2 separate regions of the Homo sapiens genome follow, and region 2 is linked to region 1. Evidence: fine-mapped expression QTL. A gene starts in region 1. The other region holds a variant in brackets. All regions are shown on one strand. Distances are between the middles of the regions.

Region 1 (16,052 bases):
AAAAAAAAAAAAAAAAAAGTCATCAGGAAATGTTGGAAGGGTCTTAAGCAATAAGGGTCTTTGTTAAAGGAAAACCCTTCACTCTTTTTCTCATCTAAAGCAATAGAAGCATTCATTTTAGAGGACCAGGTCTCCCATCATCCACTGCTATATAAATTCTCAGTGCGGAATTTTTCCAATCTATTTAGTACAGAAAGAGAGACACCAACCCTCCTGGGACTGGAGGAAGCAGAGAGGACTGATTTTCTTCTAAGCCGTGGTGTTGCTGTATCTCAAAACCCATCTTCCTGTAACCTTGAAGGCTAACTTTCCAACATTATGCTTCACTGGAATCATTCTAATGTAAAGCCTGTGAGTGATTATCTCACACTGTGAGCACAAAGATTGTTTAAACTTGAAGCTGTTCTTCATGTCCCTTAGCCAAGAGGCAACCTCCTTCGCCTTTAAATTCATAAGAGCCGCAGAGCTGATTCCTTTTTTGTGCCAAAGGAGTTGCCTTTAATGATTACCTCTGAAAAACCAAAGCAGATGATTTTTTTTCACAGTTCCCTTCAAAGCACGCCAATCCTGGCCCTGCTAGAATTCATTCCTTCAAGGTCTGAATCCCTGTAGCCTACCCAGTTATGCCTCTCTTCACAGTCTGGGACCCCCAGGAGCATCCTGGCTTTCTGGCCAGGCAGGTTATTACAACTGCATTCAGTCCATCTGTCTAGAATGATTAAAAAAATAGTAATAAAATAAGTGGTTCACACTAATTTAGGTACCAAACTCTACAAAGTTCTATTCCTGTGAAATGTGTGGTATTATCTCCATTTTGCACATAAAATACTGATGTTGAGATTATTTGGCACTTTGCCTGGAGAGGATTACCAGCATAGATCTGTCTTAATTCCCATAATATATAGGATGAAACTGAAGATCTGAAAGAGACTCATTGTCCCCAAATCACACAGTACTTGGATGTGCCAATTCAGAGTGGGAGGGCCAGACTTCAACCCAGGTCTTTTTTTTATTGTTAATTTTTAATTTTTGTGGGTACATAGTGGGTATACATGTTTATGGGGTACATGAGATATTCTGATACAGGCATGCAATGCATAATAATCACATTGGGGTAAATGGGGTGTCCATTACCTCAAGCATTTATCGTTCTTTGTGTTACAAACAATCCAGTTATACTCCTTTAGTTATTTTTAAATGTACAATAAATTATTATTGACTGTAGTCACCTTGCTGTGCAATCAAATACTATACATATATATATATATATATTTTTTTTTTTTTTTTTTTTTTGAGACGGAGTCTCGCTCTGTCAGCCAGGCTGGAGTGTAGTGGTGTGATCTTGGCTCACTGCAACCTCCGCCTCCTGGGTTCAAGCAATTCTCTGCCTCAGCCTCCCGAGTAGCTGGGATTACAGTTGCTCGCCTCCATGCCTGGCTAATTTTTTTGTATTTTTAGTAGAGATGGGGTTTCACCATCTTGGCCAGGCTGGTCTTGAACTCCTGACCTGGTGATCCACCCGCCTTGGCCTCCCAAAGTGCTGGGATTACAGGCATGAGCCACTGCGCCCGGCCAAATACTATATTTTATTCATTCTATCTAACTATATTTTTGTACCCATTAACCATCCCCCTTTCTCCCCTGCCACACTATCTTTCCCAACTATGCTTCCCTTCCCTGGTAGCCATTGTCCTACTTTCTATCTCCATGAGTTCAGTCATTTTAATTTTTAGCTCCCACAAATACATGACAACATGTAAAGGTTGCCTTTCTGTGCCTGGCTTATTTCATTTAACATAATGACCTCAAGTTCCATTCATGTTGTTGCAAAGGACAGGATCCCATTCTTTTTTATGGCTGACTAGTACTCCATTGAGTGTATGTACCACATTTTCTTTATCCATTCATCTGTTGATGGACACTTAGGTTGCTTCTAAATTGTGCTGCAATAAACATGGGAGTACAGATACCTCTTCCATGTACTGATTTCCTTTCTTTTGGGTATGTACCTAGCAGTGAGATTGCTGGGTCATATAAATATATTTATATTTTATATTTTATATATTTATATTATATAAGCATACTTATAAACATATATACAATAAATATTTCTGGAATATTCTATGAATGAATGGGTGAATAAACCTTGAATGCAATGCTTCAACCACTTCACATTTTTAATTAAACTATTAATTTTGAAGTAATTATTTATTCATATACAGTTATAAGAAATCATAGAGAAATTATACCTTTTACTCAGAGTCCTCAATGATATTATTAATAATTTCCATTTCCACCAACAGTGTATGAGGGTTCTCTTTTCTCCATATCCTTACCAGTATTTGTTATTGTCTGTCTTTTGGATAAAAGCCATTTTAACCGAGGTGAAATAATATGTCATTGTAGGTTTGATTTGCATTTCTCTGATGATAATGTTCAGCATTGTATCATATACCTGTTGGTCATTTGTTTGTCTTCTTTTGAGAAATGTCTGTTCAGATCTTTTGCCCATTTTAAAATCAGTATTTTTTTCCTGTGGAGTTTGAGCTTCTTATATATTTTGGTTATTAATCACTTGCCAGATGGGTAGTTTGCAAATATTTTCTCCCATTCTGTGGGTTCCATATTCACTTTATTGGCTGTTTCCTATGCTGTGCAGAAGCTTTTTAACTTGATGTGATCCCATTTGTCCACTTTTGCTTTGGTTGCCTGTGCTTGTGGGATATTACTCAAGAAATCTGGCTGGGTACAGTGGCTCACGCCTGTAATCCCAGCACTTTGGGAGGCCAAGGTGGGCAGATCACCTGAGGTCAGGAGTTTGAGACCAGCCTGGTCAACATGGTGAAACCCTGGACCCTACTAAAAATACAAAATTAGTCAGGTGTGGTGGAGCACACCTGTAATCCCAGCTAGTCAGGAGGCTGAGGCAGGAGAATCGCTTGAACCCAGGATGCAGAGGTTACAGTAAGCCAAGATTGTGCCATTGCACTCCAGCCTGGGTGACAAGAGTGAAACTCCATCTCAAAAAAAAAAAAAAAAAAAAGAAGTCTTTGTCCAGTCCAATGTCCTGCAGAGTTTCTCCCAATGTTTTCTTGTAGTACTTTGATAGTCTAAAGTCTTAGATTTAAGTCTGTAATCCATTTTGATTTTTTATATAGTGAGAGATAGGGGTCTAGTTTTGTTCTTCTGCATATGGATATCCAGTTTTCCCAGCACCATTTACTGAAGAGACTGTCCTTTTTCTAATGTATGCCTTTGGCACCTTTGTCGAAAATGAGTTCACTGTAGATATATAGATTTGTTTCTGGGTTCTCTATTCTGTTCCATTGGACTATGTGTCTGTTTTTATGCCAGTGTCATGCTGTGTTGGTTACTATGGCTCTGTAAATCAAGTAATGTGATTCCTCCAGTTTTATTCTTTTTGCTCAGGATAGCTTTGGCTTTTCTGTGCCTTTTGTGGTTTCATGTACATTTTTAGGACTGTCTTTTCTATTTCTGTGAAGAATGTCATTGGTATTTTGATGAGGATTGCATTGAACCTGTAGATTGCTTTGGGTAGTATGGACTTTTTTTTTTTTTTTTTTTTTTTTGAGACGGAGTCTCGCTCTGTCGCCCAGGCTGGAGTGCAGTGGCGCAATCTCGGCTCACTGCAAGCTCCGCCTCCCGGGTTCCTGAGCCATTCTCCTGCCTCAGCCTCCTGAGTAGCTGGAACTACAGGCGCCTGCCACCCCGCCTGGCTAATTTTTTGTATTTTTAGTAGAGACGGGGTTTCACCGTGTTAGCCAGGATGGTCTCAATCTCCTGACCTCGTGATCCACCTGCCTCGGCCTCCCAAAGTGCTGGGATTACAGGCATGAGCCACCGCGCCCGGCCAGTATGGACATTTTAACAGTATTGATTCTTCCAATCCATGTACCTGCAAACCCAGGTTTTAGACTGCCAAACCTAGGTCATTTTCACAAGATTGTGATTTTGTCCTGTAGACAAAATCTGCATTTTTTTGAGAAATGCATAGATCTGAGAATCATTGTAAATTTTTAACTTCAAGAATGGATCTTTTCTTGCTCTTTCCTCCCTCCCTAAAGCCTGCATTTTCTCCACAGGTTCTTGCTCTATCACCCAGGCTGGAGTGCAGTGGTACAATCATGACTCACTGCAGCCTTGACCTCCCAGGCTCAGGTGATCCTCCCACCTCAGCCTCCCAAGTAGCTGGGATTACAGGTGCATGCCACCACACCCAGCTAATTTTTTGTATTTCTTGTAGAGACAGGATTTTGCCATGTTGCCCGGGCTAATCTAAAAGTCTTGGGCTCAAGTGATCCACCCACCTTGGCCTTCCAAAGTGCTGGGATTACAGGTGTGAGCCACTGTGCCTGGCCAAAATACAACCTTATCTAAGTGCTAGGTGTTTTGCTAGGCTCACCCCCATATCTAAGCCTATTCTTAGGCTATTATCCAAGTGGGAGTCTCTGCAAAGTCACCTATCTTCCAGGGCCTTGTTTGCTGCCACCTCCTCCACGAAGCCCTCCTGATCATACCAGACCACATGCCTCATCATGTTTCTCTCTCACACACAGTTTTTGTAGGTAGCATTAACATATAATACTTTCTGTCTTCTTTCTATCCTCTCTACCAGAAGCAACTTCTACTCCAAGGTATGCACTGCTGGCCAGAATCCAGGAATTCTGGCTGTGATGGTCTTGTCCTCATACATCTCAGAGCTGCTAGTTTTGTATTTAGAATCTTCTAACTGTTCATTGACATTTGAAAGCTGTTACTTGTCTTTCTTTAGGAAGTCCCCTTGGGCACCCAGCTCACAATCTTCTCCAGCTAAATCTGGATGCAGCCTGTGATTTCAACCCCCTTTGGAGGTCCTGTCCATAATACTTCATCTTCCTCATTTCCAGGAACTGCCAACCCTCCACTATAATCCTGTGGCCTCACCTTGGAGCTTATCGTTGGAAACTCTTTCACAACCATAGGTCTCAAGTCCCAGATCCCACTCTTGGGGCATAATGGCCATTACTTCATTTATTTTCATTCCCTAATAAACAGATTTTCTCTTCAATTTCTTCAAAACCTTGGTTCCCTTGATTCCTCCACTGTCTATAACATCTTAGCTTCCTTCTAGTCATATTTCCTCAAGTACCTGGATCCTTTGTCCTCCCATCAAACCCACCCTACAACTTCAATATGGATATTCCATCAGACTGCTGAGGGATGCTGTGTAACCACAACTGTGCAGACTAAGCCAGTTTAAGCTTGTGGCAACCATTCTTAGTTGGGCCCTTAATTAGGCCAGGCAACCTTTTAAATGTTCTTGATCAGCTTCCTCTCTCATTTTTCTCAACAGCTTTTGGAGGCCTTCATCACTTTTTCCCAACTCTTTACCAAATTCCCACTCTGCTTGTCCAGCAGACACCTGATCTTCCCTTCAGAGCAAACAGGCCATCATGGCACCCTCCCTTACTTTATTGGCCCACTCTGTAAGCTCCCTTCATCCTCATTTCCTTCCAGTCTCCAATGAAAAGCTGTCCCTCTGCTCTAAGTTAGCCCAACCATCTGCTCACCTGATCCCATCCAGCCCTAGAAAGCACACACTCAACTTTGCTTCTCTATCCCTCTCCTCTTTACTGCCAAGCATCTAGGAAAATTAACTTACATATGCGTTCCATGCTTGTCTCCTCCCTCTTGTTCTTAAAGTCACCTCTGTGCAAGGTCTGTTCCCATCACTCGTTGAAAAGTCCTCAGCAAATGTCAGCCATGACCTTTGTATACAGTGTGCTCTTCATTTCCCTTCTTTCCTGGCCTTTCCATAACATTTTCGACATTGCGAATCCTGCTCTCCCACACTCTGCTGATTCTTCCACTTCTCTCATTTTCCCTTCTCAGTTCACACCACTGGCTTCTTTTTCTTTGCTGTGTTCATAAATAGTGTTTCACTAGGATTCTATCCTGAGCCCTTTTCTCTTCTTACCTTTCCTGGCCAACTGTTTCTACTGACATGGATTTTACTATATTGAACCATGACTAAATTGTTATTTTCAGCCTAGACTTTTTGCCAAGCTCCAGGCACCTATATATTCAAAAATCCACCCAAAGTTTCACTTGAATGTCTAAAACAGGAATTCATTTTCTTCTTTAATTTATTTCTTCAGTTCCTATCTCAAAAATGATTATGATTATGGTGATAATATTTACTAATTCCTTACTATGTGCCAGGCACTGTTCTAATCACTTTATGGATATTGACTTTAGTTGTCACAGGAATACTATAAGGTAGGTATTATTCTCACTTTACAAGAGAGGAAATAAACACAAACTTAGTATTTCAGTGAGTGACATTGTCCTTCACCTGAATACCCAGTTCAGAGACCCAAAAAGAATCTAGATTTTTCTTCCTCCTTCTTTATGTTTAATCCAGCATCAAATCTCTTTGACTCTTCCATTTGAGTTTCTCTGGCTTGATTCCATCTTCTCTATTTATTGTTCTCCAGAATCTGTGCCCTTGCCTTAATTCAGGCCCTCATCATTGCTCAACAGATTCTTAAAATAGTGTCCTAACTGATCTTCACACCTTCAATCTTAGCTCTCTGCACCCCCAATACAATCATTCCCCACTCTCTTCCAGAGTGGTCTTTCTGCAGTGCAAACTTGATCCCAGTACTGTGCTACATAAAGTCTTTCTGTGGCTCCCCTCACCTACCTCATAGCTCTGTCTGCACGGCACTCAAGACACCCACGTACCCTCATCTGCTGCCCACTGCATGGCATTTCAGCTTCATCTCCTACGCTTCCCTACTTTCACTTCAGATATTCCATATACCTCCCTGAATGCCAAGTGCAAAAACTTTACTTACGCACTTTTCTCTGCCTGGAATATCCCCTACCATTTCTTTGAACTATTCATACTTCAACAGTGCTGTCTTACATGACAGCCATTAGCCATATGTGGCTACAAGCACTTGTCGTTAATCTGAATTAAGGTGTGTCGTGTTGTTAAGTGGAAACATGGAATTTTGAGACATAGTATGAAAAAAGTATAAAATGTATCAATAATTTTATACTGATTTTACATTGAAAAGATAATATTTTGGATACATTGAGTTAAATAAAATATATTATTAAAGTTTTTTTCTGTTTCTACCTTTTTAATGTGGCTACATTACAATTACACATGTGGCTTGAATTTGAGGCTCATGATATATTTTAATTAAACAACAATCTTTCAAAATCCTTACCCAGTAAACTTAACCAATGAGGCAAAATAACTGTACACTGAAAACTACAAAATGCTGCTGAGAAATTAAGGAAGACATAAATAAGTGAAAAGACATGCCATGTTCATGGATTGGAAGACTTAATATCATTAACATGAAAATACTAATTAAAGTTATATACAGGTTTACTGCAATCCCTATCAAAATCTCAATATCATTTTTGGCAGACCTAAAAAGATCCTAAAACTGGTATGGAATCTCAGTAAGCCCTGAATAGCCAAAACAATCTTGAAAAAAAAAAAAAAAAAAAGAGAACAAAGTTGGAGGTCTCAAACTTCCTGATTTCAAAACTTCCTGATTTCAAAGCTACAATAATTCAAACAATGTGGTACTGGCATAAAGACAGACATACAGACCAATGGAGTGAAATAGCCGAAAAAAAAAAAAAAACTCTCATATATACGGTCAACTGATCTTCAACAGGGGAGCCAAGACCATTCAATGGGGAAAGGATAGTTTCTTCAACAAATGGTGCTAGGAAGACTGGATATCTACACATAAAAGAATGAAACTGGGCATTTATCTTCTACAATACACAAAAATTAACTCGAAGTATATTAAAGACCTAAATGTAAGTTTTATAGCTAAAACTATAAAACTCTTAAAAGAAAATATAGAGGAAAAGCTTCATGACACTGGATTTGGCAATGATTTATTGGATACGACACCAAAAGCACAAGCACAGACAATATAAGTAAAAATAGATAAACTGGACTACATCAAAATTTAAAATGTCAGTGCATCAAAGAACACAATCAACAGAGTGAAAAAGGAAACCTACAGAATGGAAGAAAATATTTGCAAGTCATATATCTGATAGGTTAATATTCAGAATATGTAAAGAACTCCTACAACTCAACAACCACAACAACAAAAACCTTATTTAAAAATAGAGGACTTGAATAGATCTTTCTCCAAAGAGGGTATACAAATGACCAACAAGCACTTGAAAAGATGCTCAATATCACTAATTATTAAGGGAGGGCAATAAAAACTACCATGAGATATCACTCCTTACCCACTAGGATGGCTATTATCTAAAAAACAGAAAAAGTATCAGTGGGGATTTGGAGAAATTGGAACCGCTGGGCACTGTTGTTGGAAATATGAAATGGTGCAGCCACTATGGAAAACAGTATGACAGTTCCTCAAAAAATTAAACATAGAATTACCATAAGATCCAGCAATACCACTTCTGGATATACATATATATACCGAAAAGAATTGAAAGCAGGTCCTGAAGAGATCTTTGTACACCCATGTTCCCAGCAACATTATTTCCAGTAGCCAAAAGGTGGCGCAACCCAAATGTCCACTGTTAGATAGATGAATGGATAAACAAAATTCATATCCATACAATAGAATATTATTCAGTCTTAAAAGGAAGGGAATTCTAACACATACAACCTGGATGAGCTTTGAAAACATTCTAAGTGAAATAAGCCAGTCACAGAAAGACAAATCCTCTATTATTTCACTTATATGATGTATCTAGAGTAGTCAAACTAATTGAAACAAAGTAGCACAGTGGTTGCCAGCATCTGGATGGAGATTGAAAGGGGAGTTTAATGAGCATAAAGTTTCAGTTTTGCAAAATGATAAAGTTCTGCAGATCGGTTGCACAGTAATGTGCATATATAGTTAACACTACTGAACTGTACATTTAAAAACGGTTACAGTGGTAAATTTTGTTACATACATTTTATGTTACATGTATTTTACCACAATTAAATATTTTTTAAAAATCCTTCCCCAGGTATCACTCCCCCTCCTCCCTGCTTCTGTGTGAATTAACAACTCCCTCCTTTGCACCTCTACATTATCTTGCGTATACCACCATTATGGCTCTTATTACATTTTTGGTAATTACGTGTTTGACAGGATAAGGGTTACTGTCCCATTTGCCCCATCCTGGGACAGGTGAATACTTATCCACTCCTGGGGTCCTGACTAGAAGCTAGGAAAATATACTAGGGTCTTTGGCAAGACAGAGAAAAGAGGCAGTGACCCCTATGGCATAATTGGCTAAAGAGGACCGTCGTTATCAGCAAGAATATATCTTGGATCTTGTAGATGTTTCACTCTGAGGCTGGACCTGGAAGGACCATTTTTCTTCAACAATCCTTTTATAGGCAGGCTCTGACAAACCTAAGTAACACTTCTTTCCTCCCTCAACACACAAAAACATCTTCTCCATTATGAGGACAGCCAGCTGAAATGACTGGTCATACCTGGTCTGACCCACAGGAGGGAAAAGAGAAAGATGTTCATTCAAGATGGATTCAAGGGCCGGGCACAGTGGCTCACGCCTGCAATCCCACCACTTTGGGAGGCCAAGGCTGGCGGATCACAAGGTCAGGAGATCGAGACCATCCTGGCTAACGCAGTGAAACCCCCGTCTCTACTAAAAATACAAAAAAAAAAAAAAAAAAAAAAATAGCCGGGCGTGGTGGCGGGCACCTGTAGTCCCAGCTACTCGGGAGGCTGAGGCAGGAGAATGGCGTGAACCCGGGAGGCAGATCTTGCAGTGAGCCGAGATCAGGCCTCTGCACACCAGCCTGGGCAACAGAGCGAGACTCCGTCTCAAAAACAAAAACAAACAAACAAACAAAAGATGGATTCAAGATAGAACAGCTGACCTAATAAGGTTCTCAGGGGGGACAATAAGGAACTATTTTTGCTTCCCTTAGACTCCTTGTATGTAAGTTTGATACCTAATTAAATTTTTTTTTCCGATAATGGACTGTAACTTTCTGCCCTTCCAAGGTCATAGTCAAGAGGTTACATTTGTTTGCTCCATCTTTGCTTCTAGATGGGAGCTCCTTTAGGGGCGGGACCAGACTTTATTCATCCTTGGATCCCCTGTGCCCACTGGTCCTGGCACATAGCAGATGCCCAATAAATGCCAAATAAATGACTGAATGTTTAGAATGAGGGTCTTTACAGCATTGAGCCTTTCCAATAACCCGGAGAGAGGCTTTTGGCCGAGCAACTAGTCTACCCCAGAGAGAAAGGACAGTCTGAACTAGAGAGCCACAGGGAGTAGGAAGGTCTGCTGGGTATGGGGAGCAGAGGGAGCATGAGAAGAAAACGTGGTTCATTACATAGCCCAGGTTGAACAGACAGATGAAAATCGCACCCTCCAGCTTCATGTTCCACTGTCTGACTGGTCATTATATAGGGCCGACATTTATCTGGTCTCCAGGCAAATTCTATAATTTCAGCTCCGTCTGAAGCAACACAGTAACACTGACTCAGTGGCCTAGATTCCACAAGTGCCACATACCTTGCTTTAGCTTAAATCAGGCATTGTTTTGTCTGGCTGCTAGGACTGGCTCAGGTCTGCTAACAATAAGATGCTTATGCATGGCCCTTTCATGCAGTCAGTCTTTTAAATTTTTTTGCCTCTCTTGAAATCCTGGAAATGATTCCTAACAACGGTTAATCTAAAAATCAGCTGGTTTTGGTCAATATAATGGCGCCCCTTCGAACTCACATTCATGGAATATGGAAGCTGGAAGGAAGAGTAGAAACTAGTTCTGCTTCTCAGGTAAGGAAATCCGTGCCCAGAGAGTTGGGCTGGGTTCCAGCCAGTTAAAACTAGAACTCAGAGATGCTGTCCCGAGCCCTTTTACTTCTGCTGCCTGCCCGCAATTGCGGTCACACCTGCTTCAGACACTTCCAGCTCAATCCTCCCTCCATTTTCTGTGCAACTAGGGTCCTCTCTGGAGAGCTCTTAAGCCATCAGCTCTAGGAGAGAAGTGGGCAGACACAAATCTTTCACAGGTTAATTTTCCTTGGAACATTCTGGGTGATTTTTTTGTAAAGCCCGATTCTCAATGGTGTTGATTTCAGGGTAGTGTTCCTCACTGAGAGCTAAGGAGGCGTTGCAGAAGTGCGCTGATTAGCTAGAATTGACCATAAACAGAGTGGCGCGGCGGATGGGCAAAGGGTGGGCAGCGAACTGGCCCAAATCATCTGTGCATCACCTCACAAGCACCAACTGAGCACTTACTGTGTGCCTGGGTAATCCACAGCTGCCTAATTAAGAACGAGCAGCTGCCTTCCAACCCTCCCCTGGCCCGAGGAGCCCTACTAACTGGCAGATTGAGGGACTTCTGATTCTCATCGTGGGTCTGGCCTTAACTAGGGTCGCGACTCCAAGCAAGTATTTAAAATTCTCCAACCCAGGTGGCCTGAGGCTTGAGAAGAAATAAAAGGCTTCTCAAAGGGATGACAGTTTCGGGAAGTTTTTTTTTGGGGGGGGGACTGGAAAAATACCATAAAAGGCATTTTGGGGGTCACACACACACAAGAGCAGAAGCGCTGTGAGCCGCCCTGCAGGCTCCCTGCCCCGGGAGCCACCTTCCACCCGCCCCCGGGCGGAGGCGGCCAACTCCCGCCCAGCGGGCTCCCCAGTTCGGCCCCGAAAAGCCGAAAGGGGGGCGCCTTTGTCTATAAGCGCCGCACGGGCGCTCCTGATTGGCTGTAGCTAAGCAGGGCTTTCTTCCGCGCTCCTTCGGAGCGCTCCCTCCAGCGTCGCCGGCCCCGTTCCATTTTCACAGCTCCTCCTCCCCGGCCGCGCGCCCCTCCCGCCCCGCGCGCGCCTCCTCTTTCTCGCGGCCGAGTTCAGCCCGGGCAGCCATATGGGGGATACGCCAGCAACAGACGCCGGCCGCCAAGATCTGCATCCCTAGGCCACGCTAAGACCCTGGGGAAGAGCGCAGGAGCCCGGGAGAAGGGCTGGAAGGAGGGGACTGGACGTGCGGAGAATTCCCCCCTAAAAGGCAGAAGCCCCCGCCCCCACCCTCGAGCTCCGCTCGGGCAGAGCGCCTGCCTGCCTGCCGCTGCTGCGGGCGCCCACCTCGCCCAGCCATGCCAGGCCCGGCCACCGACGCGGGGAAGATCCCTTTCTGCGACGCCAAGGAAGAAATCCGTGCCGGGCTCGAAAGCTCTGAGGGCGGCGGCGGCCCGGAGAGGCCAGGCGCGCGCGGGCAGCGGCAGAACATCGTCTGGAGGAATGTCGTCCTGATGAGCTTGCTCCACTTGGGGGCCGTGTACTCCCTGGTGCTCATCCCCAAAGCCAAGCCACTCACTCTGCTCTGGGGTAAGTCCCGCCGGCGCCCCCTGCGCCCCGGCCTCCGTGGCCAGGCCGCGCTGGGGCGCGCGAGGTCGCCGCTCGCCCCTCGGCTGCGGGCGGTGCGCAGCGACCCCCGGTCTCCCCTCGCCTCCCGCTGCGCGCCGCGGCCCCCTTGGCATCCAGTTTTCCGTCCCTTGGGACGGGCAGGTGTTTCTGTCCCAGTATTTCAACTTCCGCCCCCCCCCCGCCCCCACCCCGCCGCGGTCTGCCTGAGGAAGCGCATTTGCCGGCTTCCCGATGGAGAGCCGGGGGGGACCCGGAGTCCTGCGGTGCCACCGCTGTGCGCAGAGGCGCGCGAAGGGAGAGGCTCGGCACAGGCTGAATCGGCTCCCAGCGAGGGAGGACGGGCGGGCGATTGTGTCACCTCTGCGGTCCCTGGGGCTCTCCTATCCCCCCCATCACCTCCGCGGGTCACGGACCTTGGGGACAGAGATGAGGACAAGTAAGGGAGTTGGACCGGGGAGGAGAGACCCGGCACAGGATAGAGTCTTGGTTTACGCGCACCAGATGGAAGATACCGGTTCCCCTCTTGCCTCTCCAAGGCCCCTGTCCCTGCCCCCTCCGCAATCTTCTATGCCCATTTGCAGTTCTCGGTGAAGTTTCTCGGTGAGCAAACCGATCCCATGGCGAGAGCGGTCTGACCCTAGCACGAAGCTCCGACTGTGGCTGTGCAGAGCCTTCTCCAAACCCTGTTCCCATGTGGCCAGTGGGAACCTGTGGCTCTCCTGGTACCCTCCTTCCGTGCACCCCCACTCCTGCCAGTAGGGAAGGGAGCCCGGGCGCCGACCACCATTCCCCTTCCCCTGGGCCCCAGGGACTGCGTGCCCACCCTACACGACCCCAGTCGTTGATCTTTGAACCACTTCGCAGCCGCCCTGGCCGCAATAACTGGTTTTGGCCTCCTTTACTGAAGCGGCAGTAGCCAGGACAAAAGGCACAGGCATTGATATGCTGAGTGAGAATTTGACGAGGTAATCCAAGATGCCCTTCCAGCTCCCGTTTCCCTGATCTCTAGGGGCGGGCAGGAGAAACACAACCTACTTTTATTTCCAGAGGGGAAGAGGAAGGAAGAAAATAAGACCTCTTTCTACAGGGCTTTTTTGGCATGGTGCCAGCTGCAAATGCCTAGGTAGATAATGGGGCCACTATGGTTCCAAGCCTTCCCTTGAAATCCTGCAGTCCCTGCTCTTGGAAGTAAACCCATCCAGAAGTGGGTACCTCTTAGGGGGTGTGGCTCAGGGAGGGCATAGCAGAGTTGACGGATGGTGAGAGAGGTAGGATCTTTGGGGATCCCTAAAGCCTTTAAAGTCTCCCCAAAGCTCTGGGAAATCTCCTGCTTCATCTTTCCTTCTCTCAGTGCACCTCCTCATTTCTGTGTCCTTTTCACCATCACCTTTATGTGTTGGTTTAATTCTCCAACTGACTGTAGACTGTATGATGTTCAGCTGTTGCTTCATCAACACACTCCGACACTGCCAACCAAAGCCCTTATTGCCCAGAGTTCTCCAACAAGCTCCTCTCTCCCCCCTGCTTCCAGAGGCAGGGCTGGGCTTGGTCCTCAGAGCCTGGTGACCTCTAGGGGATTGAGGCTTATCTTTAATAGCTGTGGTGTTCAGAGAGTGCTCAGGGAAAAGTGAGCACTTAAAATATTATCTTACATGCCTAGGGCTCACTGGCTCCACTTCTTACAGCCTCTGAGCCCCAAGACCCTGGCACTGGACCAGGAGCCACAAGGACAAGGCCCCTCTCTCCAAGTTTGCCAGGTCACCTCTGCCCTTTCCGGACCGCTCTCTGTGGTGAAGATAGAACCTTTGTTCTGAAAGATCTTGGCTTAGAGGACACCTCCCAGGCCCCAGTGTCCTCTAGCTTCCTTAGAGAAGTTAACACACTGAAGGAATCTGGTTTCCCCTTTGTGACTCATGTCCCAAACCCCATTCCATACCTTCCTGGATAAATTCTGCCTGTGCTTCATCTGCTATTTCCTAAGTCTTTTTTTTTTTTTTGAGACAGAGTCTCGCTCTGTCGCCCAGGCTGGAGTGCAGTGGTGCGATCTCGGCTCACCGCAAGCTCCGCCTCCTGGGTTCACACCATTCTCCTGCTTCAGCCTCCCAAGTAGTTGGGATTACAGGTGCCCGCCACCACGCCCGGCTAATTTTTTGTATTTTTAGTAGAGATGGGGTTTCACCGTGTTAGCCAGGATGGTCTCAATCTCCTGACCTCGTGATCCACCCACCTCAGCCTCCTAAACTGCTGGAATTACAGGCGTGAGCCACTGCGCCCGGCCCGTAAGTCTTAATTCTCTCCCCACCTTCATTGCCTCCCTAAAAAAAAAAATAGCAGACAATGGTAGATATTAGAGTTTTAAGGTCCAAAATTGTGACTTAGAAACAGTCCAAACAATGGGTCTTATCTGATGAATAGCTACTGCCTCTGCTGCTTTTTTTTTTTTTTTTTTTTTTTTTTGTGAGACAGGGTCTTGCTGGAGTGCAGTGGCACGATCATAGCTCACTGCAGTCTCAGTCTCCTGGGCTCAAGCAATGCTCCCACCGCAGCCTCCCAAGTAGCTGGGACTACAGGTGTGCACCACCACACCTGGCTATTTTCTTTTTCATTTTTTTGTAGAGATGGGGGTCTCACCATGTTGCCCAGGCCGGTCTTGAATTCCTGGGCTCAAGCAGTCCTCCCAAAGTACTGGGATTACAGGCGTGAGCCACTGTACCCAGTCTCATGAATAGCTTTTGAGGGAAGAAATGAGGGACAATCAGAGACCAGCTAAGATCAGCTGTGCTGATGGCTAGGCTACATAGTAAGCAGAGGGACGAGGCAGACCACTGACTCAGGGTTATTTTCAGTGAAAGCCCTGGTGCCTTGATCCACAAATTTCCCCCCACTGAAGGCCCTTTTTCACCACCTCCCTACTGGTTATGTGTAGCATTAGGGCCAAGTTCATGCCCCAGTGGGCTGCTCATGCACTTCAAGGACCTGACTTGTAGAGGAAATAGGCTTAGCCTGTCCATTGCTTGCCACCCTCCACACCAGATGAGGTTGTGCTGGAAACAAGAGGCATCTATGCAGTGCACCCAGCAGGGGATGTGTTGGATGTGCAGTGTGCAGAGAGTAATTTGTGTGGTGGTAAAATGTCATCCGTGAAAGAGCCATCAAATTGTTAGTTCATCAAGTTGTTAGTTCTCCTTGGGGCCAGAGCATGTTGTTTTCCCTTTTTATCCTTTTCGTTTTATGAGTGGGCAGGCTGTCAGGACAGAATGCTCTTGGTGCCCCCAGGTCCTCAGCAATGCGTTCATGACTTTCAAGGACAGAAAGCGGCCGGGCATGGTGGCTCACGCCTATAATCCCAGCAGTTTGGGAGGCCGAGGCGGGCTGATCACAAGGTCAGGAGATCGAGACCATCCTCGCTAACACGGTGAAACCCCATCTCTACTAAAAAAAATACAAAAATTAGCCGGGCGTGGTGGTGGGCACCTGTAGTCCCAGCTACTCGGGAGGCTGAGGCAGGAGAATGGCGTGAACCTGGGAGGTGGAGCTTGCAGGGAGCCGAGATTGCGCCACTGCACTCCAGCCTAGGCGACAGAGTGAGACTCCGTCTCAAAAAAAAAAAAAAAAATGGACAGAAT
Region 2 (16,052 bases), 430 kb before region 1:
AGTGAGCTATGATTGCTTAACTATACTCCAACCAGGACAACAGAGTAAGACTCTGTCTTTAAAAAAAAATTAATTAATTAATTAATTAATTAAAACAATAAAATAAAGTGAAGAAGATTCAAAGTTCCACTATCTACAGGTCTGTCAGGAGAAACAGATAATAGAGAAATGATAACAGCCGGTACCCACAGAGTGCTACTTACTACATGCCAGGTGCTGTCCTAAGCACTTTACATCTGCGAACTCATTATTCAGTTGAGGGAACTGAAAGAATCTTCGCTTTCAACCGTCAGTTATATTGCCTTTTCACAGGCAAGGCAATTGCAGTTATGTTGCAATTTTCAATTGCATCTGCAATCAGATGCAAAGGAATTGCTAAAGACTCAGTAGTTGAGGGCTATATTTTGAGCCAGGACCAAAGCAAAGAACTACTTTCATTTATAATAAGGGCCCAGATGCAGGAAGTAGACATCTCAGACAGTGTGGTGTGAGAGCAGTGTGGGATGGCAAAAAGAGGATCCAGGCCATCCTGGAAATAGTCCTTTGGCCACAGAAGTTAATTGTTACCATCAGTGCCTTAGAAAGTAAGAAGTAGTGACTGACATCAGGACTCCAAAACTGGGTAAAGTTCAGAATAGATGCAGTCATTCTTCTTTTGTCATCTTCACGAAATCCTGAATTATGAAATTCCTCTGGGAATATTTATATGTTGATACCTGCACAAAATAGACCCTACGTGATAATAATCATCTCTATTTTGGTGCATAGTTTTCTGTATTTCCTGTGTGCATGTGTGTGTATGTGCACACACGTGTTTGCGTGTGTGCATGTGTATGTGAGTGTATGTGTGTGGTGTGAATGTTTTCAATATGCATCAAGGGCCTGGACAATGTGATATATGCGTGTTTGTTACTTTTAATCTAGAAATAGGAATTTAGCATTTGAAGTGCCCTAATCAGGAATATACTCTCCAGGATAGGTTTGAAATGTTTTTCTCAGGTCTCCACATTCCAGAGGACCTGTTACAAGTGGTTTGACTATTGCTATCTCAATGTACTAGTTGTTAATATACTTTTAAAATGATAGAAATAGTTTTCAGTTGGCAAAATGTGCGATGTTTAAAATATGTGGATTAGCCAGGCACAGTGGCATGTGTGTGTGATCCTTCTCAGGTGTCTGAGGTGGGAGGATTCCTTAAGCACAGGAGGTTTTTGTCTGTTTTTGATTTGTTTTTGTTTTGTAGAGAAGGTGTCTTGCTATGTTGTACAGGCTGGTCTCAAACTCCTGGCCTCAAGAGATCCTCGTGCCTTGGCCTCCCAAAACACTGGGATTATAGGAATGAACCACCATGGCCAGCCAAGCCCAGAAGTTTGAATCCTGCCTGGGCAACATAGCAAGACCCCATCTCTAAGAAAATAAAATAAACTTAAATTTAAAAAATAAAATGTGTGAGGCCGGGTGCGGTGGCTCACGCTTGTAATCCCAGCACTTTGGGAGGCTGAGGCAGGCAGATCACGGGGTCAGGAGATCGAGACCATCCTGGCTAACACGATGAAACCCCATCTCTACTAAAAATACAAAAAATTAGCCAGCATGGTGGCAGGCGCCTGTAGTCCCAGCTACTCGGGAGGCTGAGACAGGAGAATGGCGTGAACCCAGGAGGCAGAGGTTGCAACGAGCTGAGACCACGCCACTGCACTCCAGCCTGGGCGATAGAGCGAGACTCCGTTTCAAAATAAATAAATAAATAAAAATAAAATAAAATATTTGGATTAATTAGCAATACTGTAGAAGAATCTGTGTCCTTATATGTATAGAAGTGCATAAAATTTATGAGCCCAGCAGCCTATCTATATCTTTCAGAGTGGTCTTTGTGGCTCAGGCTCTGATTTGGACCTGAAGATTCTGCTACCTATTCTGAATAGTAAGTGAGCTTAACTTGGCTCTAGAATATTATTGCATCTGCCTTGATTAATTCTTTCCTGCAAGATACTTGGCAGTGTGCCAATGGTGGAGACAACCAGTTTTCTACCAAATAGTCCATTCTCCTCTTCTTCTTAGGTGCTTGGCTACACCACCCAATCCAGCTCACCTAACAGATAGCTGTATTCATGTGGCTAAGTTTCACCTGATGGCATGTGAGTAGAAGAATGTATACCTAGATTTCTGGGCCTACACCTTAAGAACATGAATATGCCTATTCTGAGTTCTTGTTCCCTTCTTGCCATTTGGTTGGCTAGAACTTTGCTATGCAGACAACAAAAGGCCCAGAGAGTAGTGCAGAATCACGTTGGAAGGAACCTGAGCCCCTGAGTGGCTCATGAAGCAGACCACCTGCCACCTTGGAACATTCACCTTGGACTGTTGCTTTAAACCACTGTATTATTATTACAGCAGCTTTTCCTTATCTCATCCGATACAGTGCCTAAGGGACTGAGCTGAGCTTGTAAGAAGAGCACGCCTGCTTGCTAATGATTACAGCGGTAGCAGAATTCCATCTAGGGCTGGATACCAAGGTAACATGCAAACATTTAGTGAGTCTGGGGGGAACAGCAACACAAAGCCCTACCCTACCTCTTACTTTTAGAGGCCTTCAACATCTCCCAGTAAGAATCTAACAGGTGTTTAAAAATGCAGATTTTGTTCACAGCTAATATTATACACTACAGTGAAAATGGAAAGCCTTTCTTCTAAGATCAGAACAACGCAGAGATGTCCATTCTTGCCACCTCTATTCAACATAGTATTGGAAATCCTAGCTACAGCAATTAGGCAAGAGAAAGAAATAAAAGACATTCCCCAAATAGGAAAGGGAGAAGTTAAATTACACCTGTTTGCCAATAACGTGTCCTTATATATAGAAAACCCCAGAGACTCCACCAAAAAACTGTTAAGATAAACAAATACAGTAAAGTTGTAGGATCCAAAATCAACACACAAAAATCAGTACACTGAAAACTATTTAAAAAATAATTAGAAAAATAGAAGACACAAATAAATGGAAAGATAGCTCATGCTCATGGACTGGAAGGATTAAAGTTGTTAAAACGTCCATATTACCCAAAGTGATCTATACAATGGAATACTATTCATCTACGTCTGGGTGCCTTAGACTGCAGAATTATCTGCCCAAACCACTTGGAGCCTATTTACAGGGCTAGTACATTCTCTTTCCTGATTAAGTCCTCCTAAGGGCAGACTGCACAGCTGGAGTACACAACCCTAATGGCTAAGGATGCCCAGGGGACACACATTTTATGAAGTGGGTGTGGTTAGAGCTTAGCTATGCAGCATCAGGTGTCCACACATGTGTCCACAAAGCCCTTTGTAGTGTAGGATGGGGCATAGGTAGAAATAAAAGAGGAAATGCCCTCAGACCAGGGATGGGCAGCCAGGGAGCCAGCTGTCTCCATAATCTGGAGACCCCAAGAAGTCTGAGAATTCTAAATAGGAACCTGCCCTTCCAGGTTATTATAAAAGTGTATTTGTCAAGATGTGAGGGTAGAACATATTTTATTTAACAGTTCGTTACAAATATTTAGACCTGGCCGGGCACGGTAGCTCACACCTGTAATCCCAGCACTTTGGGAGGCACCTTTGCCCTAAGGGCCTTCAGCAGAGGCATTTCCACCAATGAACAAGTCATCAGTGTTACCCTGCGTCCTACTTACCATCTTTCCCTCCAACTCCAGGCAAGCCTGTCTGCAATCTCCCAAATCTTATACATGTTGAACTATTGTGGCTGATGATGCCAGGGTAGGTAATCATGAGAGCAGCTAAAGGGAGACCATGGTGTTGCTAACTTAGCAGAAGCCTGGAGCTCAGAGCGAGTGCAGGGTAGCCAGAGTGGCACTGGGTGGGGAAGTGGGTGGAAATGCGGGATTGCTTTCTTGATTTCTTTTTAATTAGTTCATCCTGGTTATATAGAAACTACCAATTTTTGTATATTGGTTTTTGTATCCTTCAACTTTACTGGATTTACTTATCATTTGTAAGACTTTTTTGGTAGTCTTTAGGTTTTTCTAAGTATAAGATCATGTCATCTGTAAAGAGAGACACTTTCACTTCTTTTCCAACTTGGATTATGTCCTTATTTCTTCCTCTTTCCTAATCGATCAGGCTAGGACTTCCAGCACTATGTTGAATAAGAATAGTAAAGGTGAGCATCATTGTCTTATTCCAGTTCTTAGAGGAAAGGCTTTTAGCTTTTCCCCAGGTGGTATGATGTTAGCTGTGGGTTTGTCATATATGGCTTTTGTTATTTTGAGGTATGTTTCTTTTACGCCTAACTTGTTGAGACGTTTTATCATGAAGGATGTTAAATTTTATCAAATGCTTTTTCTGTGTTTATTGAGATGATCATATGGTTTTTGTCCTTCCTTTGGTTAATGTATCACATTTATTGATTTGCATATGTGGAACCATTTTTTGCATTCCTGGGATAAATCCCACTTGATCATGGTGTATTATATTTTTGATGGTTGTTAGATTTAGTTTGCTAGTATTTTGATGAGGATTTTTACATCTATGTTCCTGAGAGATATTTTTCTCTCATAGTTTTCTTTTTTTGTGTGTCCTTGTCTGGTTTTAGCATCAGGTAATGCTGGCCTTACAGAATGAGTTAGAAAGATTTCCCTCCTCTTTAATTTTTTGGAATGATTTGAGAAGAATTAGTGTTAGTTCTTTATAAGCTTGATAGAATTCAGCAATAAAGTGATCCAGTTCTGGGCCTTTCTTTGTGGGGAGAGTTTTTATTATGATGTAATCTCATTATTGGTCTGTTGAGGTTTTCTGTTTCTTCCTGGTTTAATCTTAGAAGGTAGTATGTTTCCTGGTATTTAATCAATTCCCTCTAGGTTTCCTAGTTTTTGAGCATATAGTTGTTCATAATTCTCGCTGATGACCTTTTGCATTTCTGGTGTCTGTTGTCATGTCTCCTTTTTCATTTCTGATTATGTTTATTTGGATCTTATCTCTTCTTGGTTATTCTAGCTAGCAGTTTATCAATTTTGTTTTTCTTTGCAAAGAACCAACTTTTTGTTTCATTGATCTTTTGTCTCTTTCATTATTTATCATTGCGGTTTGGTGGTTTTCTGTAGTGGTAACATTTGATTCCTTTCTCTTTCTCATTTGTGTATCTGCTATGCCAGTGAGTTTTACAGTCTTATGTGTTTTCTTGATGGTAGACATCATCCTTTCTGTCATGTGTGTCCATGTGAAGAGACCACCAAACAGGCTTTGTGTGAACAACAAGGCTGTTTATTTCACCTGGGTACAGGCGGGCTGAGTCCGAAAAGAGAGTCAGCAAAGGGAGATGGGGTGGGGCTGTTTTACAGGATTTGGGTGGGTAGTGGAAAATTACAGTCAAAGGGGGTTTTTCTCTTATGGGCAGGGGCGGGGGTCACAAGGTGCTCAGTGGGGGAGGTTCTGAGCCAGGAGGAGGAATTTCACAAGGTTAATAGTTCAGTTAAGGTGGGGCAGGAACAAATCGCAATGGTGGAATGTCATCAGTTAAGGCAGGAACAGGCCATTTTCACTTTTGTGGATCTTCAGTTGCTTCCGGCCATCTGGATGTATATGTGCAGGTCACAGGGCATATGATGGCTTAGCTTGGGCTCAGAGGCCTGACACTTTCACTTCTAGATGAAGGACTCTCAAACATTTCTTGTAGGACTGGTCTAGTGGTGATGAATTCCCTCAGTTTAAAGTATTTCTTTTAAACAAATGAACACTTTTCTCTAGATAGTGAATCTAAATCTCCTCCAGCTTGTTCCATTGCAGATTGACTTATATAATTTGGTCTGAAGATAATTCATCTTAGAGAAGATGATGCACTCAAAACAGAGAAGATGTTAAGAGGCTTTTGAAACTATAAAGCAGTCCCACTGCTGTTGTCCGAGTTTATCAACTCTTTTGCAAATTATGTATGAGTCAACACTACTGCTTACCTGGCTTCTACTTTATGAGTAACAGCTAAATAAATGAGTCTAACTTGGAGAAAATCAATGTTCATTTTCTTTTGCAGTTGTCATCTGCAGCAGGACCTCACTTGAGTACTGCCTCTGAGCCTAGGTTCTGAAAGCTAGTTTAAAATTCCCTCTTTAAGTTTGTCTGCTGAATGTTCTGTGACAAATTCCCTTTCACGCACGTCCATGTGAAGAGACCACCAAACAGGCTTTGTGTGAGCAACAAGGCTGTTTATTTCACCTGGGTGCAGGTGGGCTGAGTCCGAAAAGAGAGTCAGGGAAGGGAGATAGGGGTGGGGCCGTTTTATAAGATTTGGGTAGGTAAAGGAAAAAGGGGGGTTTTTCTCTGGTGGGCAGGGGTGGGGGGTCACAAGGTGCTCAGAGGGGGAGCTTTTGAGCCAGGATGAGCCAGGAGAAGGAATTTCACAAGGTAATGTCATCAGTTAAGGCAGGAACAGGCCATTTTCACTTCTTTTGTGGCGGAATATCACCAGTTAAGGCAGGAACCGGCCATCTGGATGTATACATGCAGGTCACTAGGGATATGATGGCTTAGCTTAGGCTCAGAGTCCTGACATTCCCTACTTCATCTCTCATGCTGAATATAGTCCCTGCAGGATACTTTAATTTTTTGGAATGATTTTTAAAGATTGGTGTTACTTTGGTAATAATAATTGTTTTTATTTTGGTAAATATTTAACTTTAATCAGGTCTTCATTAGACTTAAACTAGTTGACTTCAATAGTCATGGAATGCCTTTAATATTCAAGAAAATAAAAAATAGGCTGGGCATGGTGGCTTATGCCTGGAATCCCAGCATTTTGGGAGGCCAAGGCAGGAGGACTGTTTGAGCTCAGAAATTTGAGACCAGCCTGGGCAACATGGCAAAATCCTATCTTTACTAAAAATACGAAAATTAGCCAGGAATGGGGGCATGTGCCTGTAGTCCCAGCTACTCAAGAGGCTGAGTGAGTATTGCTTGTGCCCAGGAGGTCGAGGGTACAGTGAGCCGAGATCATGCCACTGCACTCCAGCCTGGGTGACAGAGTGAGTGAGACCCTGTCTCAAAAAAAACAAAAAAACAAACAAACCAAAAACCAAAAACTAAAACAAAACAAAACAAAAACAAAAACAAAAAAACTCAAGAAAATAAAAACGAATATAAAATTCTAGAAGAATACTACAGCTCATATGTTAAATGTAAGTCAATAATAAAGTTTTTATGAAATGTTATCCCTTTTAAAAGAGTTCTTCTTATGAATATAGGTTTCTTAGTGTATATTTCAAGAATAAACAGTAAGACAGTTTGTTTCTGCCATCCCAAGCTACCTGAGATTAAAAACTATATTTTCTAAAATTGAGTTGCTGGCAAGGAATTTGTCTTATCATACTTATTCAGAATTTGTTTTTCTAGGCCAGTAATGCCTGTAATCTCAGCACTTTGAGAGACCAAAGTGGGAGGATCACTTGAGCCCAGGAATTCAAGCCCACCCTGGGCAACACAGCAAGACCCTGCCACTCCATTATTTTTTAAAATAAAAAATAAATAAATAAAAATTTGTTTTTCTATAGCCTAAAGAAAAATAATTGCCTCTGTTAACATTACATTTCCAAGAAAAATTGTCTGCAAATAGTTTAATTTTAGATGATTACCCCTCTCCAAGGTAGGGCTGGAAGGAGGATAAATTTGGCAGAGACATAGGTTGCACATACTGATCTCAGTTTCTGTTAGGTGCATATAAATAAAAAAAAGTTTCTTCATTTTATTAAAGCCCTATTTTTGTATCATTTTTAGTAATGTATATACCAACATAAATGCTTGATCTCAGTCTCTCCTGATAATTACAAATCAACATATCCAATGCTTAAAGTTACTGTTAAATTAATGTAGAATTGTCAGGTCTTCATTAGAAGTAGTAAGTAGAACACAGAGATTGGTCAAATTTTTCAGTACTTATACTTTTGAAAAAAAGAAAAGAGTATTCTATTCCTGCCAATTAGTATAGTCTTTACCCTGATAAACAATGTCAATATACATTATGATTTTAATTATAAACCCCCTGGAGACAGCAAGTATGTTTATATTTTATTAGTCATTGTACTTAAGAAGCCCCAAAGCTCTCTATTCCTAGTTCAGATTTTCTTTTGTTTGTGTGTGTTTTTGTTTTTTTTT[G/TTTTG]GATGAAGGTTAAGAGGAAGCTTTCTTTCTTACTTAAAGGTTTGTATGCTGGGCAGATAGTTAATGGTACAGAAATCCAAGCTTTATTTGGGGGAACAAGAGAGCAGACAGGACATAGAGGTCTTATTGGCAGAAGTGGCAAAGTAGGGGACAATCTTTCATAGGATCATAAAATTATAGCCCCCAAACACAATCTAGTGAAATCACCTTGTTTCTAAGAAGGTTTTCACAAAGAGCTAATACTAAAGAATTGGGGTTACAGAATACATGGTATTATCCATGCCAAATACAAACACATGGACATCTTTATTGGAGGAGAAATTTGTTCTGCTCAAGAGCATCTTAAAGATTTCTATTTCCCAGTCATTATTCTTTCCCACAATCCCCTCCCAATAATTAGTCCAGAGGTAGGTCTGGGTTCCCATGGTGGCAGGATATTCAAATATCTCAAGATGGCTCACCATGTCATGAATGACATCTTAATTAATCAGTCTTCAAACAGGGGACACAGTGAGAATAAGGACTCCATGTTTCCTGATCTCAAAACACACTTGAGAGTTAAGAGCATGGGAATGACACTTCTGTGAATTACCACTTGGTGCCTGTTCATTTTTCTCTTCTGAGCAAAGTCCTCTCTTGTGAAATTCTAATACTTTGCATAGAATATTCAGAATTTCCAGACCTCATCGTTGAAGATTTCTTTTGCCTTCACAGTCATAAATATGTTGTAAGATTTGTGTTCCCAAGATCAAAGACAGGTCTCACAAGGGGTCCCCTGCTCTACTACCAGGACACCAACATTTGTTCTTGGTGCATCTTACATCAGCAATCTTTGAAATTCATTAGGTGAGGTCCTATATCCTTTGTTGTATCAGTCATCATCCCCAGCACAGGTTAAACCTCAGATTTCTCCACTCTAAGTGTCCTTGCCCTCAGGGAGGGTGACAGGATGTGGGGTTTCTTTCCAATGTTTTAGGACACACTCATAGCAAAACATGTCCACATCCTGTTGCAATCAGTGTGGTCAAATAGTGTGGAACAAATCAGCCCTTCCTGATATCTTCTGCATCTGAGGCAACCGTGTCCCTTATATGATGTCTGTAGTCAAAGGTTAGACTAGACTAGACAAAGGTTGGTTAGAAAACCAACTCTCAACCACAGACCTTGGTAGTTTCACAACTGTTTTTAAATAATCTCTTACTTCCTCCTTCCTCTCCCTTATCAATGGGGAAATGGTGGGAGTCTCTGGAGCAGAAGCCATAAGCTAATGAAATGTCATGGGACTGGACACACTAATGTTAAGGTCTATGGGCTTTACATCCACAGTTCCAAAAATCTGTCATCTCAGAGCATTAGCATCCAGCTATTTTTTTTTTAGTTTTTGTAGAGATGGGGTTTCACCATATTGGCCAGACTGGTCTTGAACTCCTGGCCTCAAGTGATCCACCTGTGTCGGCCTCCCAAAGTGCCCTGAACCAATACGCCTGGCCAAGTGTGTCTCTCTTTAAATAACTCTCCCCCTTTTTTTCTGTTCCACATCATCCTGTTTGGAAGATAGAGATTTCATTTTGCAGCACTTCTCCCAAACACTTGTCATCTTCCCTTTGGGAGTCTCTGTCCAGGGAATCTTATTATTTAGGAAAAATTTTTAGATGTGTCTTACCAAAGTCTCGGATATATATCTAATGATGTCCAACTCTCCCTATCATGAACTCTAGAATAACCTGACCACTTTTGCCCATGGGTTTCTGTCACTTCTACTTTTCAGACTGGTTCCTTCCGGTGGCCAGCATTTGGTACTTCCTCTACTTTCTGTGAAGACTCTCATTTAGTTAAAAAAAAGAAAAAAAAAATTACTGATGCCGTGGAGCATAGTATTTGTAGATACAAAGGACCTCAGAGGTCAGCCCCTCTCACTTGTTATATGAGGCATCTAAAGTTCTAAGGACTGAGATGTTTGCCCAAGGTCATGTAGTTAATAAATATCATCTATATCAGGCCACTTCGTATGATTGGGCAGGATGTTTATTACCAAAAAGCAACCACCTGACGGGTGAGTAGGGACCAAAATCCAGTCTGTGCTCCTCTTGCCTTGCCAAGCTGTGAGTCCTGCTTAGGACTCTATGCCACACCCCACCACCAGAGAAAAAGGCCTCTCTGTGATTTTTATAAAGGCACTATTTGGCTAATAGTGACGCTAATCTATATGTAAACTTTTCTTCTAATTATCTCAAACCTAAGTGTTAGAAAAAAGTTAATTAGGAAGAAACTTTGCATTTTTATTTTAAAGGAATTAGTATCCTATAACTTTTATGTTCCTAACAATTCTTACATCTTTTTCAAATGCTATTTGTTAATTCTTAAGCAATCTTGGCATTCACAGATTGGGTTGTTTGTTTGTTTGTGGAAACAAGGTCTCACTATGTTGCCTAGGCTGGTCTCAGACTCCTGGGCTCAAGCAGTTCTCCCGCCTCAGCCCCCCAAAGTGCTGGAACAACAGGGATGAGCCACCATGCCTGGCCAGATTTGATCATTTTTGCTTCACCTACTCAAATTATGGGGATGGGGTACAGATTCATTTTTGCTTCACCTACTCAAATTATGGGGATGGGATACAGGTTCAGACTAGGGTCTCAGGATCCAGGACTCTGCTTGAGAATAAGAAGGGCTGGCCCAGGGTTATAGGGTGGAACCAAAGAGAGACTTATGCCCCCACCCACATAAGGGCAGCTTTCTGTCTGATACAAAGGACCTAGTCCAAGGAGACAAGAACTTAATCACAAGGGAAAAGTCTGGAGTAGAGGACAGGACAGAGAGTAGTTCAGAGGCAGACGCTGGAAAGATTTCCTGAGACAAAGGTTCCTGGGGAGTGTTCTTTTGTAGGGGCCTCCTGTGTGCTTTGGATAAAACTGGAAAGTCCAAAAGGCCTAGTCAGCCTGCAGAGCTCCGAGGCAATGCAACAATGCCACTGGAGGTCAAGAGGAGGCGATGACATCAGAGACCAATGACCTGGTTTCAGTGGGACAAAACACTGCAACAAGAGCCCAGCAAGTGCCCACTGGGCCAAACAAAAGCCCACTGTGAACCAGCCACAACACCACCAATGCCACGTGAGTGCATAAACTTTCCCTCTCCCCAAGGCCATCTTGGCTAAGGGAAGAGGAGAGAAGAAAATGCCTAAAACGCTGAGCATTTCCCCAAAAGAGATTAGGTTAACCCCAAAGTAGACTCTGGCTACCTTTACTTGGAAAGTTTATGTTTGGTGATCTACCTTCACTTCATCACTCTATCTCGCCATCAGAGGAAACGGGGCCTTCTGGACAAGAAGAGAATAGTTACAGAAAACAAGAAGGCTACGTGTTCAAGCTTTGAATTCAACTTAACCCCATTACACCTGGTCCCTCGGATCCCAGAGGACATGCTTTGCACATTATTCAGAAGTTACAGAGTTCAAATATAAACGTAGATGACTCTTTTGATGCCCTTGAGGTTGGCTTTTATGCATCAAAAAAGGTTATTCAGAGGTTACTTAGCTTTAAAAATTAATATTTAATTTACTAAAGTTACAACTTAAAAACTTCGCTTACCGCCAGGCATGGTGGCTCATGCCTGTAATTCCAGTACTTTGGGAGGCCAAGGCGGGCGGATCACAAGGTCAGGAGTTCGAGACCAGCTTGGCCAACATGGTGAAACCCCATCTCTACTAAAAATACAAAAATTAGCTGGGCATGGTGGTGCACGCCTGTAATCCCAGCTACTCAGGAAGCTGAGGCAGGAGAATTGGTTGAACCTCGGAGGCGGAGGTTGCAGTGAGCCAAGATTACCCCACTGCACCCCAGCCTGGGTGACAGAGCGAGCGAGACTCCATCTCAAAAAAAAAAAACTTCATTGACCTTAAGATTTAAGTTCAACTTAGAATTCTTGTTGTTCTTTCAGAAATATAGCAAATTTTAAAAGCACTTGAAGGGCCTAAATATGGTTTGGTTCCATTAACAAATGCTATTAGATAAACTCCTTAAAACCTCTTAAAGTGCATTTATAAATTTAACATTATTTATTTTCTTAATATCAATAATTATTCAATTTAATGTCAAAACTTTCCTGGGAACCTAAATAATGCATACAAATCTAGTAGATCAAACACATAAATATGGTGATTTTTAAGTTCTTAAAAGATCTTAGTAACAATCTGACTTAGAATGTAAGTCACTCCCTTTGGTGTTTAGGAAACACAAGACTGATCTCTAGTTTCAACAGACCAAATTCTCTTAAACATTGCAACTACTTACAGTAAGTAATGTACACATTAATACAAAAATATGAATACTGTAGATAATATCCTCTTAAACATTTCTACTCCTAAATCTAAATCTTCGCAAGGTTGGAATATGATTACCCACCATATTAGTTTGCAAGAACTGCTATGACTAAATACCACAAACTGGGTGGCTTAAGCAACAGAAATTTATTTTCTCATAGTTCTGGAGGCTGGAAAGTCCAAGGAGTCAGTAGGTTTGGTTTCTTCTGAGGCCTCTCTTCTTGGCCTGCAGAGACCAGCCTTCTCACTGTGTCCCCAGGTGGTCTTTCTTCTGTGTATATACATCCTTAGTGTCTATTTTTCTGTCCAAATTTCCTCTTTTTAAAAATTTTTCATTTTTTTTAATTTTTATTTTTTTGAGTTGGGGCCTTGCTCTGCTGCCCAGGCTGGAATGCAGTGGTGCAATCATGGCTCACTGCAGCCTCAACCTCCGGGCCTCAAGCAATTCTTCCCGCTCAGGTTCCTCAGGTGTACACTACCATGCCCGGCTAATTTGTGTATTTTTTATAGAGATGGGGGTCTCGATATGTTGCCCAGGCAGGTCTCAAACTCCTGCCCTCAAGCAATCCTCCTACCTCAGCCTCCCAAAGTGTTGGGATTACAGACATGAGTCACCAGCCCCACCCCAAATTTCTTCTTATTATAAGGACACCAGTCAGATTGGATTAGGACCCACATTAATGGCCTAATTTTAATTCAGTCACCTCTTTAAAGGCCCTATCTCCAGGCCAGGCATGATGGCTCACACCTGAAATTTCAGCACTTTGGGAGGCTGAGGTGGGCAGATCACCTGAGGTTAGAAGTTCAAGACCAGCCTGGCCAACATAGTAAAACCCCATATCTACTACTAAAAATACAAAAATAGCCAGGCATGGTGGCATGCACCTGTAGTCCCAGCTACTTGGGAGGCTGAGGTGGGAGGACCACTTGAACCCAGGAGGCGGAGGTTGCAGTGAGCCAAGATTGTGCTACTGCACTCCAGCCTGGTCAACAGAGCAAGACTCTGTCTCAAAATAAATAAAAAATAAATAAAGGACCTATCTCCTAATAAGTCCCATTCTGAGATACTCGGAGTTTGAGCTCCAACATATAAATTTGGAGGGGGAGACACAATTCAGCCCATAACATTCACCAGGGAGACCATTGTGTCAACCCAACAATTTGAGAGATGCCTTTCCAGGACAATTCCTTGCCAGGAGGATGACTGAATGTTGCTGGTGACCTTGATGGAACATACAGAGCCCTCCTTAGAGTGATTCTCAAGGGGTGGTCCTGTAGCCCTTAGAGTCCACATAGTCTACATCTCTATTTCTTACTTTTGCCTCATTACAGAGGACCACATCCCCATCCAGTCTGCTTGGTCAGCGTCCATATTTCTGCAAGTCTTTAATATAGTGTCTGTTATCTAGCTCTGAAGACCATGAGTTAGATGGAATTTTGCAGTTTTTCTATATCCTTCTTTCCTGGTAGAATCACAAAACTCTTTTAGATATTGAATTTATTTCTTTCAAACCTTTTATTCTAATAAAGGCTGAAAGAAAATACAATAGACCCATATATCCTTTGCTCAGGTTCAATGGTTGTTTGTTAACATTTTACCATATTTGCTTTCTCTTTCTCTCTCTCTGTCTCTCTCTTTCTCTCTTTCTGTCTCTCTCTCTCTCTCTCTCTCTCTCTGTGTGTGTGTGTGTGTGTGTGTGTGTGTGTGTGTGTGTGTGTGTGTGTATGTCTATGTGTCTGTCTGTCTATATTTGGCTGAGCCTTTTGAAAGTACATTGTAGAAGTCATGACACTTGCCAAGCGTGGTGGCTCACACCTTTAATCCCAGCACTTTGGGAGGCCGAGGCAGGCAGATCACGAGGTCAAGAAATCGAGACCATCCTGGCCAACCCACACGGTGAAACCCCGTCTCTCCTAAAAATACAAAAATTAGCTGGGCGTAGTGGCACATGCCTGTAGTCCCAGCCACTTGGGAGGCTGAGGCAGGAGAATCGCTTGAACCTGAGAGGTGGAGGTTGCAGTGAGCCAAGATCACGCCACTGCACTCCAGCCCGGGCGACGGAGCGAGACTCATCTCAAAAAAAAAAAAAAGACACTTCACCTATAAATATTAATACATTAATCTTCTCCTAGAAATATAGACAGTCTCATACATAAACAATACCCTTTTTATATCTAAAAATTAATAGTAATTTGATAATATCCTCTAATTTACAGTTTATATTCAAATTTCACAAATCCCATAAATGTCTTTTATAGGTGTGTTTTTCCAGAGCAGTATCCCATCATATATTTGCATTTGGTTATTATATCTCTTTAGTTCCCCTGCTTTTTTCCCCATAAGATTGGAATGCTCCATTAGGTGTTAAGGACACTGTTTGAGCACTTGGTTAAGATGGTGAGTGCCAGGTCTCTCTATGGTAACAGTTCTTTTCTTTTTGCAATTAGTGAACAATCTGTGGAGTGATTCTTTGTCACCATCGGGAAACAGAAAGACAGACGATATATAGATAGATCCTGGAAAAGTTCTTTAGTTTTCTTTACAAAAATAGCCAAAGAATTTATTGAGACTTCGTAAGTGTTAACATCTTCATTTTATTATACATAATTCAAGGTGCTGTTTCTCAAATGTGGGTAAATATATCCCCAGAGATATGCTGTAGAAGGCTGAGTTAGGCAAAGTGCACAGGACAGATCAGAACTTACAGGAATTATTTTATGTGGTGATATTAACACAATGTAAAAACGCTTTCATGCTGAGACAATTGCAGATATATTAATGGAGTAAAATGTAAATCCACACATATTTTTTAAATGAAGCATGCAAATTCAAAGAAAATTTGAGCTTAGGGAGTTTAAAATAGGCTGCTTTGGACTATTTCCCTAACCTCCCAGAAGTCCTTTTCTACTTTTCTGTCCTGAAGAGGATGGTCATAGGAAAGTGTGAGAAGTGCTGGCTTTAGAGAACATATCTGTATTTTGTCCCTGAGGAACTGGTGGGAACCTCTCTTCTAGAGTATCTAAAGGAATCACCCCTGCTCCCATGTAAGCGACTCCAATTCTGCTGAAACTCCTGTTTGCCACTTTTCAGGGGCACATTTGTCAAGCTATTCTGGGCTCGTGTCAAATGCACTCAGATGGCTTTCTTGGTTCCTAGTCCTTATTATTATTTGCAGATCGTTCTTGGTCTTTTTTAATGCAGTATGTTCAATGTTTGACTTAAGTATCATTTATTAGTTGATTTTTTTTACAACGTTTTCTCCCTTCAACACTCAACTAGGCAATGCAGGCAGTCTGTTGTCTCTGTTACCCAGGAATCACACCTTGCTGTAATGTATGCTTTTCCTTTATCAACCTTTCCTGTCCTTGCAACCCAACAGATCGCCGATCCAGGAACACACATTACAGCAAGCTGCCATCGTTGGGGTCATCTGCCCCTTTGGGAAGGGAGCTTAATTGGGCTCCAAGATGAAAATGTATTTCCCTTACTTACAATACTTTAACCAGTGCTGAATTACCCAACACTCAGACAAAGTACGCATTTGACCAGTGTTAAACTAAGGCACAATAAAATTTTAAAGAGTTTATTTGAGTA

Which allele goes with the higher level. Positions count from the first base shown, and alleles are read on the strand shown. Sizes are in standard deviations (SD) of each study's normalised expression.
For the expression in NK cells of the gene that starts at base 11,897 in region 1, allele TTTTG in region 2 goes with a higher level than allele G (large effect, 1.2 SD a copy in Gilchrist 2021).

What was found. PIP is the estimated chance that this variant, and not a neighbour inherited with it, causes the effect.
Region 2: its variant is the best candidate, but not a certain one, in a credible set for the expression of SCD5 in NK cells (Gilchrist 2021, PIP 0.55).

The regions. Positions count from the first base shown.
Region 1 is chr4:82,794,641-82,810,692 of GRCh38, reverse strand. It overlaps SCD5 (stearoyl-CoA desaturase 5), which reads left to right and starts at 11,897. Exons shown (of 5, transcript NM_001037582.3): 1 at 11,897-12,387. The coding sequence starts at 12,156. RefSeq lists enhancers at 10,739-11,455, 11,456-12,173, 13,150-13,671 and silencers at 11,542-11,961, 12,292-12,341.
Region 2 is chr4:83,224,986-83,241,037 of GRCh38, reverse strand. No RefSeq gene overlaps it. Among named protein-coding and RNA genes, the nearest start is that of COQ2, 52 kb to the left of the region's middle. RefSeq lists an enhancer at 5,449-5,498. The variant G/TTTTG (reference allele first, on the strand shown) is at 8,140.